3 linked regions of the Homo sapiens genome follow. The protein of the gene in region 1 interacts with the protein of each later gene in a biochemical or structural test. Each region holds a gene or a part of one and is shown on either strand. Other genes may lie near its edges.

Region 1 (4,104 bases):
TAACTGTCGTGACCTGGCCCGCAAAGCCAAAAGAAGGTACTTTTTTTTTTTTATTCTGGCAGTTTTTGTGGTTTTCACATTCATTCCATTTTCTGCATGATGGGTGGTCCAGGGGAACCATGCCAGTAGGCCCCCAGTTCAGCAGCGGGTAATAGAGGAGAATGGGTCAGGTCTCAGTTTTAGTTTTCCTTGTGCTTCTTATTTTCAAATTCACCTGCATTCAACCACATAAGTGTTTTTAAAGTAATCTTAGTAGTCCCTTTGAAATTATGTGTGCAGTAATTGTTGGAAGAAAGAAGTTTTGGGTTTGAATTACCGCTGTGTCAGCTTTAGCTCAGTGCTTTTTCTCTGTACTGCCCTGGAGCCAGGATGGAAGGGAGATGCTTTCCTGTCCAGACTGAAGAGTTACAGGGAGGAAGGAAGCTGTCTGCTGACAACAAATTCCCCATAAGATTTCTTTACATAGCAGGCTCCTTTACTCCCATCTGTACTTTAAATATCTATTTGAATTGTAGAGTTAGCCTTGGCCCCCCCACATTCAGGGTCTTGCCTCTTGCAGAAAGGCAAGTATAGTGTTTAGGAGTGAAGTGAAGCCAAGTGAGTGCTATGGTGCAGGCTGTGACTCTTCTCTCTCCTTTGAAGGAATTTACAAGCTCAGGCTCAGCCAACACTGAGACCACCAAAGTGACGGGCAGTCTGGAAACCAAGTACAGATGGACTGAGTACGGCCTGACGTTTACAGAGAAATGGAATACCGACAATACACTAGGCACCGAGATTACTGTGGAAGATCAGGTAATGGCTGCTGTGAAAAGATGTGGATTTATTAATTCGCATCTGCCAGCCTGCCTTGTGACTAAATCTAGTGGCAAATTTCTTTTCTGTTCAGCTTGCACGTGGACTGAAGCTGACCTTCGATTCATCCTTCTCACCTAACACTGGGTAAGAGTTTCATCTGTTTTCTCCACAAGGATGTTCTCTGATGTTGCAGGTGGTGGAAGCCCTTTGTGACAAAATGTTTTGGGGGCTGACAGCACCTAAAATATGGTCTCCGAGACCTGGCGATTTAAGTCCTCTGGTTTTGATTTGGTCCCAGGGGTCGTATCCACATCTATGCACTAACAGACTATGCTATAATGAGCACTTCCTAATTCAGGACTGGTGTTTACCCAACAAACGATTTCTAAGTGCCACCTGTGCTTGGCCCTGTGCCCATCTGGAGATCTAAGGGTGCCCAGGCCATGATTGTTACCCGCCAAGGAGCTCACTTTCTAATAGAGGATTCAGACCAGTGTTTAGCCGTGTTTTGTAATAAGATTCTGCATTTTGTTAGTGTTCTCCTAGTTTCTGCCATGGAGGTTGCAGGATTTCTGTTCAGTAATAGCCATTTCATGTGAGTTAGGCTGCTGGTGATGTAAGTGGCTATGACCAAACGGGAGTGGGTGACATTTGGAAGCAGGGCCTAACTGGTCACTGTTGCCAGCCTCATTTCTTCAGGCATGGAAGTCCTTCTCCCAGCTTCCTGCTGCTTAGGGACACTGAGACCCTGTGGGTGTAACTGCAAGGTGGCTCCTGAGGCTGCACTTTCCCCAGGCCTTCTGGCCACAGATGTAATAGGCTTGTTAGTTCTTGACCATCACTTGGCATGATAGCATGGTAGTCTGCCTCAATTCCTGGGTGCTTTTCAAAGTGCCTAGAAGGAATTATTCCCTTTTAGAATACACCCTTGTTTTTTTCCACTCATATTGGTGGGTCTTCCAAACCTGGGGAAGATGTTTTATATAGTGATGTTAGGGTCAAGGGCATGTACTGAATTTCAGTTTTTAAAAATTGTGGGCCGGGCGTGGTGGCTCACGCCTGTAATCCCAACACTTTGGGAGGCTGAGGCAGGCAAATCACCTGAGGTCGGAAGTTTGAGACCAGCCTGACCAACGTGGAGAAACCCTGTCTCTACTAAACATAAAAATTAGCTGCGCCTGGTGGGCGCATGCCTGTAATCCCAGCTACTTGGGAGGCTGAGGCAGGAGAATCGCTTGAACCTGGGAGGCAGAGGTTGTGGTGAGCCAAGGTGGTGCCATTGCACTGCACCCTGGGCAAGAAGAGCGAAACTCCATCTCAAAAGAAAAAAAAAAAAAAGAGTCGGATGCAGTGACTCATGCCTGTGATCCCAGCACTTTGGGAGGCTGAGGTGGGTGGATTGCTTGAGGTCAGGAGTTTGAGACCAGCCTGGGCAACATGGCAAAACCCCATCTCTAATAAAAATACAAAAATTAGCCAGGCATGATGGTGCGTGCCTGTAGTCCCAGATACTTGGGATGCTGAGGCATGAGAATCGCTTGAACCCAGGAGACAGAGGTTGCAGTGAGCTGAGATCGCACCACTGCACTCCAGCCTGGGCTACAGAGAGAGACTCTGTCTCCAAAAAAAAAAAAAAATTGTGGTAAGATATACATATAAAACTTAACATCTTTAAGTGTGTAGTTAAATGGCACTATGAATTTTTCAGTTTTGCCATTCATTTTTTTTCTTTCTTCCTTTTTTCCTTTCCAACAGATATTTATTAGAGGGAGGATCTACCAAGTGCAGACCTGTGCTGGGTGTGCAGTGCACACAAGTGACTGGGCACACATGGTTCCTATCCTCTGGAGATGTCGTCTTATAGCTTGGCTATAGATGATCTGAAGAGACCATTGTTACGGGGCTGATTTACTCTCATTCCTCTTCGCTGCTGTAGTTTCTCCTGCAAGAGCACTGCCTTTTTGCAGTGCTGTGCACTCTCCCCCCAGGAACTCTGCCATGGTATCAGGGAGCGGTTATCTGGAAAGATCCTGGGATAGGATGAGAGGCTGGAGGATGTGCCCACATGCTTGAATTTGCTGCCTGGGACTTTGCCTGCTGCCCTGGGATAGCACACTTTGGAATTTGTAGGTGATTTCCTTCCCATGACCTTAGGGAGCTTTGCAGAGGTCTCCAGGCCATGCAGTATAAAACACAAAGGAAAGTTTTTTGGTTTTTTTTTTTTTTGGGTTGAGGGGGACGGAGTCTTGCTCTGTCGCCCAGGCTGGAGTGCAGTGGTGTGATCTCAGCTCACTGCAACCTCCTCCTCCCGGGTTCAAGTGATCCTTTTGCCTCAGCCTCCCAAGTAGCTGGGACTACAGACACGGGCCACCATGCCTGGCTAATTTTTGTATTTTTAGTGGAGACGGGGGTTTCACCGTATTGGCCAGGCTGGTCTTGAACTTCTGACCTCGTGATCCACCTGCCTCGGCCTCCCAAAGTGCTGGGCAGATTCATGTGTTTCTCCTGCCTCAGCCTCCCGAGTAGCCGGGATTACAGGAATGCACCACCACACCCAGCTAATTTTGTATTTTTAATAGAGACAGGGTCTCTCCATGTTGGTCAGGCTGGTCTTGAACTCCTGACCTTGGGTGATCTGCCCACCTCAGCCTCCCAAAGTGCCGGGTTTACAGGCGTGAGCCACTGCACCTGCCCCCCTTTTTTTTTTAATTTACTTTTTATTTCAAAATAATTTTATACTTAGAAAAAAATGTGGCAAAAATAGTATGCAGAGTTCTCCTGTGTTCTTCACCCAGCTCCTAATGTTAATGGTTTACGTAACTATAATGATCAGAATCAGCAAGTTAATGTTGATATCATATAGTTAATTAATCTGTTGTCACAATGACGTCTTTTTTCTGATCTGTGATCCAGTTCAGGTTCCTAAATTGCATCTAATTGTTAAGTCTTCTCTAATCTGGAATATTTTCTGACTCTGACACTTTTGAAAAAGAGTGGCCAATTATTTTGTTAAGATGTCCCTCAGTTTGGATTTGTCTGATGCTTCCTTATGATTAAATTTAGGTTATGCATTTTTGGCAACTGTAGTTGTTGTGTTATATTCTTCTCTGCACCTGATGTTAGGAAGAATATATCAGTAGGCCTCATTTTTGGTGATCAGTTTTGAAGTGGTGTCTGCCAACTCTCTTCATTGTAAAGCTACTATTTTTCTCTTTGTAATTAGTAAGTATCTTGTGGGTAGACACTTTGAGATTATGCAGATATTCTATTTCTCATCATACTTTTGCTCAAAAATAGTAACATCCA
Region 2 (3,417 bases), on another chromosome or scaffold:
CCCCCCCTATGCACAGCCTGTGAATAAAGAGCCCTGGCTCCACAACCCACAAACACTCCCCAGTCCCCTGCAGTGCTCAGACACAGAGGTGAGGTGGGCAGCGCAGGCACAGCAGGGGGCAGGGGAGTCAGATGTCCTGTGCACCCAGCTGGCAGCCCCACCAATGGGGACACAGAAGAATGTGGCAAGTGCATGAGCACCCATCATCCACAGGCCCCAGCCCTGTGCTGGGGGTGGTTCCTGAGGCCAGGAGGAAAGGAGCCGGCCAATGAGAACACCCCACAGGCCTGGGCTCTTCCTTGGCCAGCCCCTACCCACCGTGTCCCTGTAATAGAGATGATGTAGCCCAAAGAAAAACTAAGGGAGCAACGGGCCCTGCTGTCCTGGAGAGCAGGCTTGGCCAGGCTGTCCAGCGACAAGGCACCCCCGAGGCCTGCACCAGGAGAGTGTGAACACTGCTGGGGCTGGGCAAGGGCCATGACACCATCCTCGCTGCCTCTGCATTTGTGATCCAATGTGTTTTAAAACTTGCAAAGACAACTTGAAAAATGGGGACATGGATGGTTTCCCTATGACATAAGCAAGACTTAAAAGCTAGAATAACTAGTAAGGGACAGATCAGACCAGAGAGCAGGCGGGTAGGCCAGGCATGGCTCACGGGTGGCTGCAGCCAGACTGTGAGTTGCTGCAGCCAGCAGCTGATGCTGAGGTAGGCCCTATGGAAAAAGGTGAAATGGGATCCCCTGTTGGTCAGGACATAATAGGTTATGCTGTGGAAAACACAAGCCCCAAACTCAGTGGCTTCGCACATCAAAAATTTATTTCTTGCTCATATTACATGTGCATCGCGGTCGGCAGAGGGGCTCTGCTCATCACAGGCTATCAAGGATGACAGCAGACCCCTCCCTTCTGCCGCAGTTACACTTACAGGTGGACTCAAGGTTGAATGTCAAAGGCAGAAAGTTACAACCTGGGAATACAGGATAATGCCTTTGTACCCCCCAGGTAGGGAAAGATTTCTTAAGTGAGAAACAGCATCCCATACAGCACAACTGGGCACTGCCTACTCAACAGCCAAGGCTTGGCCATCCCCACTCCTCAGTATGGGCCCCAGAACCCAGGGCCTGGGGGACTCTGCACACAGGCATGTGGAGACCACAGAAGCCTGCCCAATATAGCGCTGCCAGGAACAGCAAAGACAAAACCAGAGAAGCCTATCGCGGGCACCGCTGTGGGCAGAACTATGTCCCTTCAATATTTTTATGTTCAAGTCCTAACCCCTAGTACTTACATTTGAAGACAGGGTCTTTAAAGAGGTAATTCAGGGTTAAATGAGGTCATGAGGGTGGGCCCTGATCCAATAGACTAGTGAGCTTATGAGAGATTAGGACACAGACACAGACAGGGACACGGCAAGAAGATGGCTATCTGCAGGCCAAGGAGCGAGGCCTCAGGAGAAACCAACCCTGCCCACACCTTGATCTCAGGCTTCTAGCTCCAGAATCATGAGGAAATGTCTGTTGTTTAAGTCCCCTAGCCTGCGGTCCTTTGTCAGGCAGCCCCAGCAGACAAACAGGTATGTTGCCCTGGGATGGATGCAGGCCCCTCCCATCCTCCCATCCTCAGCAGCACCAACCAGCCCCACGCTGGGTGGCTGCTTGTACTTCTCCATACTGAGCACCCCAGCCCATAGGATGATCAGCTGCTGCCGTCCTATGGAACTCAGGTGTGGCTCTGTGGCTTCCTTTGGCCACAGAAATGGAAGTGGGGTGACACACATTACTTGTGGCCTGCTGTGGCCTTTCCCCTGCCTCAGTGAGCATGGAGAAATATGTCCAGGTAGGCTGTCGTCAGCACAGGTCTGACAGGCCCCAGCCACGGTGGCCCACAGGTGCAAGCAAGAAATAAGCAGTGCCAACTGTAGCCGCTGCGCTGTTGGAGATCTTTGTTACTGCAGCACAATCTGGCTCATGCTGACTGATCCTGCAGGGTAACAGCTTTATTTGCCTTGCTCCTTTATTGCTGGATCTTTGGGCTTTTCCAGTTCTGCTGTTCAAAAAACAGTGACACCCATGAGGTGGGTGTTAGAGGGCCCAGACCCCAGCCAAGGCACTGCATGGGCATCATTCTCATTCAACCCTTCTAACCACCCCATGAGGAAAAACTCTGGTCACAGCTCAAAAAGGTCAGGTAAGGACCCTCAGCTCATGCGGGGAGGGGAGGAGGCAAGGCCAACCTCCAGTCCCTGCTCTAAACCCCCATGTAGTGGTACCGAACCATGACCACCCCTGGCAAGAGCCTTCATGCACCTAGCAAGTAGTCACAGCATGCATGTGCCTAGAATTGTTACGTGGTCAAATTATATTATTGTGTATTCCCACCAACAGTATGAGAAGGTCCACTTCTCCATACCTCCACAACTCTGGGCATCTAAAACTTTTAAAATCCTGGAATCATAGGCAAAAAAAAAAAAAAAAAAAAATTCACCCATATTTTCCTCTAGTACTTTCATAATTGTAACATTGAAATCTTTAATCTGGAATATGTACTGGCATAAAGAGTGAGGCACATACATGGCTTTACTATTTTCCAGAGGGCCAACTGCTTTTACTGAATAATCCATTTTACTCGTTAATTGGAAACACCTCTAGCCTGTACTAAATTTCCATATTTATTTGGCCCGTTTCAAAGTCCTCTATTCTCTGCTCATCTGTCCACATCTAAGTGCTTTAACTATTGTGGCTTTATAAAATATTCCAATATCCCATAGGACCTTATCCTTAGTACTTCCTATTTTAAAGTTTTCCTTGCAGACAGGTACTTTAAATACCATCTCACAGCACCCATCATGTCCTATCTTCAGGAAATAAAATCTCTGGGTATTTCCAAGGGAAGTGAAGGACTGACACCATGATTAGAAAGCAGAGCCAGCACCATGGCCCGTCCCTGAGCATGTCCAGCAAACCCTGCCAGGCTCTGCAGCTCCTGAGCACCCTGCCTTCGGGTCTGCCAGTGTGTGGGGGCCAGAAGAGAAAAACAACCCAGGGGGAATGCCTCCTTCCCCCAGCAGGAAAGCAGCTTGGTCATCATCTGTCTGAAAGCAGGTGCTGCAGCAGCTGGCAACAAAGCCACTCTGAAAGGAGCTGTGTGCACTGCCTGTCTGGAAGGCCATGCCAGAGTCCATCGTTGCCTCCACCCTACCTGTGCAGGAAACCTGGACATCACCACTTCAAGGCCCTACCTTCCTTTCTGGGCAGAGCCCAACCACAATAAACAGGACGCGTTTTAATTAAAAACCAGGTCACCTGGACTCTCCCAAGGACTCTCAAGCCTGCCTAGGTGGATGCTGCATGACTGGCCCTCAGACACACGGCAGACCATAACTCACACACCCCCAGGAGCTGCCTGGGTCCCAAG
Region 3 (3,802 bases), on another chromosome or scaffold:
AAATTAATCTCATGTTCTTCATCATTCACTGGTATGCCAAACACATGAATTGATATATCATAATATTTAATATTTGCAATTATCTTAAGAACAGATAATAATTACACCTGAGTTTTTAAAAAATAAAAACAAAAGAGAACTGAATGTCATCATTAGTAACAAAGGCTATGACCAGCCAGATGCAAATATGGACACAGACTCTCTAATGGGCTCAAGATAGTTACTGTCCGAGCTTTGAAACCACCATCAAAAACATTCCTTTCTCTCCCCCATCTCTATCAGGGTATAATAGAGCACAGAAGAACTGTATGTGAGATTTAATATAGCTTAATATATGTTTACATCTTTTAAAATAAACCAAAATGAAATAAACAATACAAAGAATCCCCAACACACCCCCCCATCCCCCATAAAGGAACACACCTATCTCTCGGTAACTTGAACCAATAGACTTACAGAGTATTGCACCTGGACATTATTATAATTATTCTTTCATAGACTAAAGTTTTATAATATGCCTGAACATGCAGCAGTTGATACCTCTATATGCAACGAATTAATTCCACAGGCCTTGCAGCAAACACTATATACAAAAATCTCAAATGTACAAAAGGCAAAAGCTTCATTAGTGCCACTTTGCCACTCACAAGTATATATATTTAGGGGCAGCTGGGAAATCCACGTGCAATAGTTGGAATGGATTCCATTCCCTGCTAAATCAGTTCAGTAAATTAGGTAATCAAATGACCTCTGGGAAACATATACACAAAGCCACAGAGAACCCTTGGAAATGAAAGAATAACACTGTTAGCATATCTACAGGAGGTAATGTCACATCCCTTCAATAGTGTCCACATGAGTTGCCATTGCATGTCACACAGAAACAAAACTGAGTACATCTTGCGACATTGTCAGTTTTCTAACAAGTTGCTCTTCAGTTTCCAGATACCCTTTGTATAACCCATGTTTAGCCTCATTCTGCTTATTCCAAAAGCAGATATTTCGTATATAACTTTACATGTTTAATGTTTAAAAACCACAACACAGTAGTACTACCATTTTGTATAAGTGCGCAAAAATAACACACTGCTGCAGAAAATAAATAGTGTTTATGCTAGGAACTTAGGATGAAACTGGAAAGAGAATCTGGGAGCTGAGCTTTGTTGGAACCCCAGGGTCCTCGCCTTTGTGTCCAGGTAGAACTTGAATGATGAAGAATGCTACTTGTTGCCTTTTCTCTCAATTCATACAGCTCTCATGTGTCACTCGGGCATTGACAGCATCCACCTTGGACGACCGGTTTCTCATTTTTTATTAGCCCTTTAATATCTACCTGTATTCAGACTGGAACTCATCTCTTTTGGCCAATTAGAAAGTGAATTTGAAAATATATTTTTCAAATGTTAACAGAGTTCAAAACCCTGTTTCTTTTTCCACAAAGAGGATTTCTTCCACAAGACACAAACTTACATGACTTTGGCATGCTGAAAAGCTAAAACCAAAGCAGGCAAGAGTTAGCCATTCCAGAGCAAACCAACCCAGCTGGCCAATCCCTGCATCTCTGGTCTCCCTCCCTCAGAGGGCATGCCTCAAGGGCGCCCTCCCTCGTGTGTGCGGAGAAGCACCAGTCTCTTCTCCAGGACAGAAGGGCAGGGATGGCAAGCTGCGGTGCAGGAGGGAAAAGAAGCAAGAGGGATCAGGATCTGTGTCCGATAGCAGAGCCGGAGTCTTCTTGTTTGCTTTCTTTCTTTTTTCTGTTCTTTGCAGTAAAAGAACTGAAGTTGCTTCACTGCCAGGAGCCCCTGAGGAGTGGAACCAGGCTTGCCAATGGTCCAAACACGGCAGTGTATACAGCTAATTGCTGACCCAATGAGTCTGCATTACTGGTGAGACAAGAACCGAGAGCGCCTTCTGGTCACCAGGTGGGAGGGGGAGGAGGTGGCCTGGGGCAAGGGAATGCAATAAATAGACAGTGGACATGGGACTGGGGCTCCGAGGAGGAGAAGTAGTTCAAGACCTGCTGAGTGTCTCCAACACAGGAGTCTTCTCTGCACCCCTTCTTGCAGCATCGGCAAAGTCCAACTGCAGTGGGCTCTCAGGGCATCAGGTCTTCACCAAAGTAGGAGAAACCTTTGAATTCCTCCTGGTTGATCTGCTTTACAATTGCTTCGTCCACAAGGGTGAGTACCGGCTCTTCCCGGGTAAAGTCTTGGTCAAAATTATTGACGTCTCTTTTGGTTTTCTGTGGGAAGAAAAGAGAAAGTGGTGAGTTGAGGCTGCTCTCCCTCCTGAGGGCCCCCCATGGGGAGTGGGCACCGCACTGACCAGCCTGTCACCAAAGCAGGCCTCTAGCTACCAACAGACAGCAGACACGGGGCTGTCCCGATGAGGTAACGATGGATGGCCCCAGGACCCGGAGGTGAGAGACGAGGAGAGGAAGAATGAGTCAAGGTGAGAAGGAAGAAGGGGTGAGAGGGTATGATGGAAAAGCAGGGAAGTGGGATTCCCACAGACGTGTGTGTGTGTGTGTGTGTGTGTGTGTTTGTGTGTGTATGATGCAAAGGTCCCATCTCACACCCTCTTTCAGCAACTGCTGTAACCTACTGGCTCCATTACAACATTCCTCCCTGTGACCCAGGGAACAGATCTGAATCCCCTCTCAGAGGTCCTTCTTCCCCATAACCCGGCCACATCTGCTCCAGGTGACATCCTCTCCACAAGCCTGCCTCGATTTCCACTTACTCTCACCACGAACCCAATTTTGTGCTCCAGTATTTTTTCAATTATTAAACTCAGCACATTGACTTGCAATGACGTTTTTATGCTTTTGTCTAGACCAAGAGCTTCTTAAAGGCAGAGACCTTGTCTTGTTCAACTTTGAGTTCCCAGCAGTTCCCCAGCAATAAGTGTCTACTGAATGAAATAAGTAAACTCACCACTGACTCCCCAGCTCTGAAGGACCCATACCTCTGGGTTGAAGTTCCCAAGGTACAACTGTGTGCCTTATGGTTCTTGGGGGGTGGGGTGGAAGGGAGCAATCAATCAACCCACAAATGAATGCTGGTTTTTGGAGAAAATCAGGAAGTATAAGTAATGCTCTCTGCCTTTAGGGGCTTAGAGTTGAGTTCAAGGGGTCAGTAGTCCTGTGTAGAACACATCGCTTTAGTTAGAAAAATTTCCATGGAGAAGTTGGGATTTGGGCTAAGACTTGAGGAATGGGTGACAACTGTACTGGTAGAAATGGGAGGGAGGCACCTTGGCAGGGAGAAGGATGGAACAAAGGCAGGGAACAGGAAGACAAAAGATGCATACACAGGGCAGCGGGTTCACTAAGCTGCAGGGGCAGAGTGCGGCATGGGGATGGCGGGAGTTAGGGCTGGAGTCCAATGGCAGAGGCCTTCAATAGCAGGTCCCCTCTCCCCCACAGCACAGAGCACAATGCCCAGAAGATTAAAGGCAGGGACTCCAGCAATACTTTTTTCAGACACTGATTAACTGGTATTACCCAGGATTAGTGACTTGGATGATGGAATAAATCTTGTGGAAAGATTCACATTATTATTTGTAGGAGAAATAATATTAATATATGCTATGCTCTGTGGAAACCACTAACCTAAAGAAGTTAATAAGTAGTCCATGAAAAAAGCAGTTTTGACATAAAGCCATGTTTTCTACCCTGCTCTTGGAGATTTGCTATGCACATTGGCAAGTTAGTCTCTGAGAAATTCTAGAGTGAGGAAATCTAGTTTGCTTTGTTTAGGCTAGCCTTCCTCAAACTTGACCTAAAACTTTTTTGTTTTCC

What was found.
Region 2: the proteins of VDAC1 (region 1) and RTL10 form a complex in vitro, tested with the Homo sapiens proteins (one study listed by IntAct).
Region 3: the proteins of VDAC1 (region 1) and PRKCE form a complex in vitro, tested with the Homo sapiens proteins (one study listed by BioGRID).

What each region holds. Positions count from the first base shown.
Region 1 is NC_000005.10:133,987,693-133,991,796, reverse strand, and holds part of VDAC1 (non-selective voltage-gated ion channel VDAC1), read left to right. Parts: intron 1-642; coding exon 643-795; intron 796-889; coding exon 890-942; intron 943-2,553; coding exon of another isoform or gene 2,554-2,662; exon of another isoform or gene 2,663-3,879; intron 3,880-4,104. UniProt on the Homo sapiens protein: Non-selective voltage-gated ion channel that mediates the transport of anions and cations through the mitochondrion outer membrane and plasma membrane.
Region 2 is NC_000022.11:19,845,344-19,848,760, forward strand, and holds the end of RTL10 (protein Bop), read right to left. Parts: 3' UTR 803-3,417; downstream 1-802. UniProt on the Homo sapiens protein: Could induce apoptosis in a BH3 domain-dependent manner. The direct interaction network of Bcl-2 family members may play a key role in modulation RTL10/BOP intrinsic apoptotic signaling activity.
Region 3 is NC_000002.12:46,183,175-46,186,976, reverse strand, and holds part of PRKCE (protein kinase C epsilon type), read right to left. Parts: intron 2,243-3,802; coding exon 2,096-2,242; 3' UTR 1-2,095.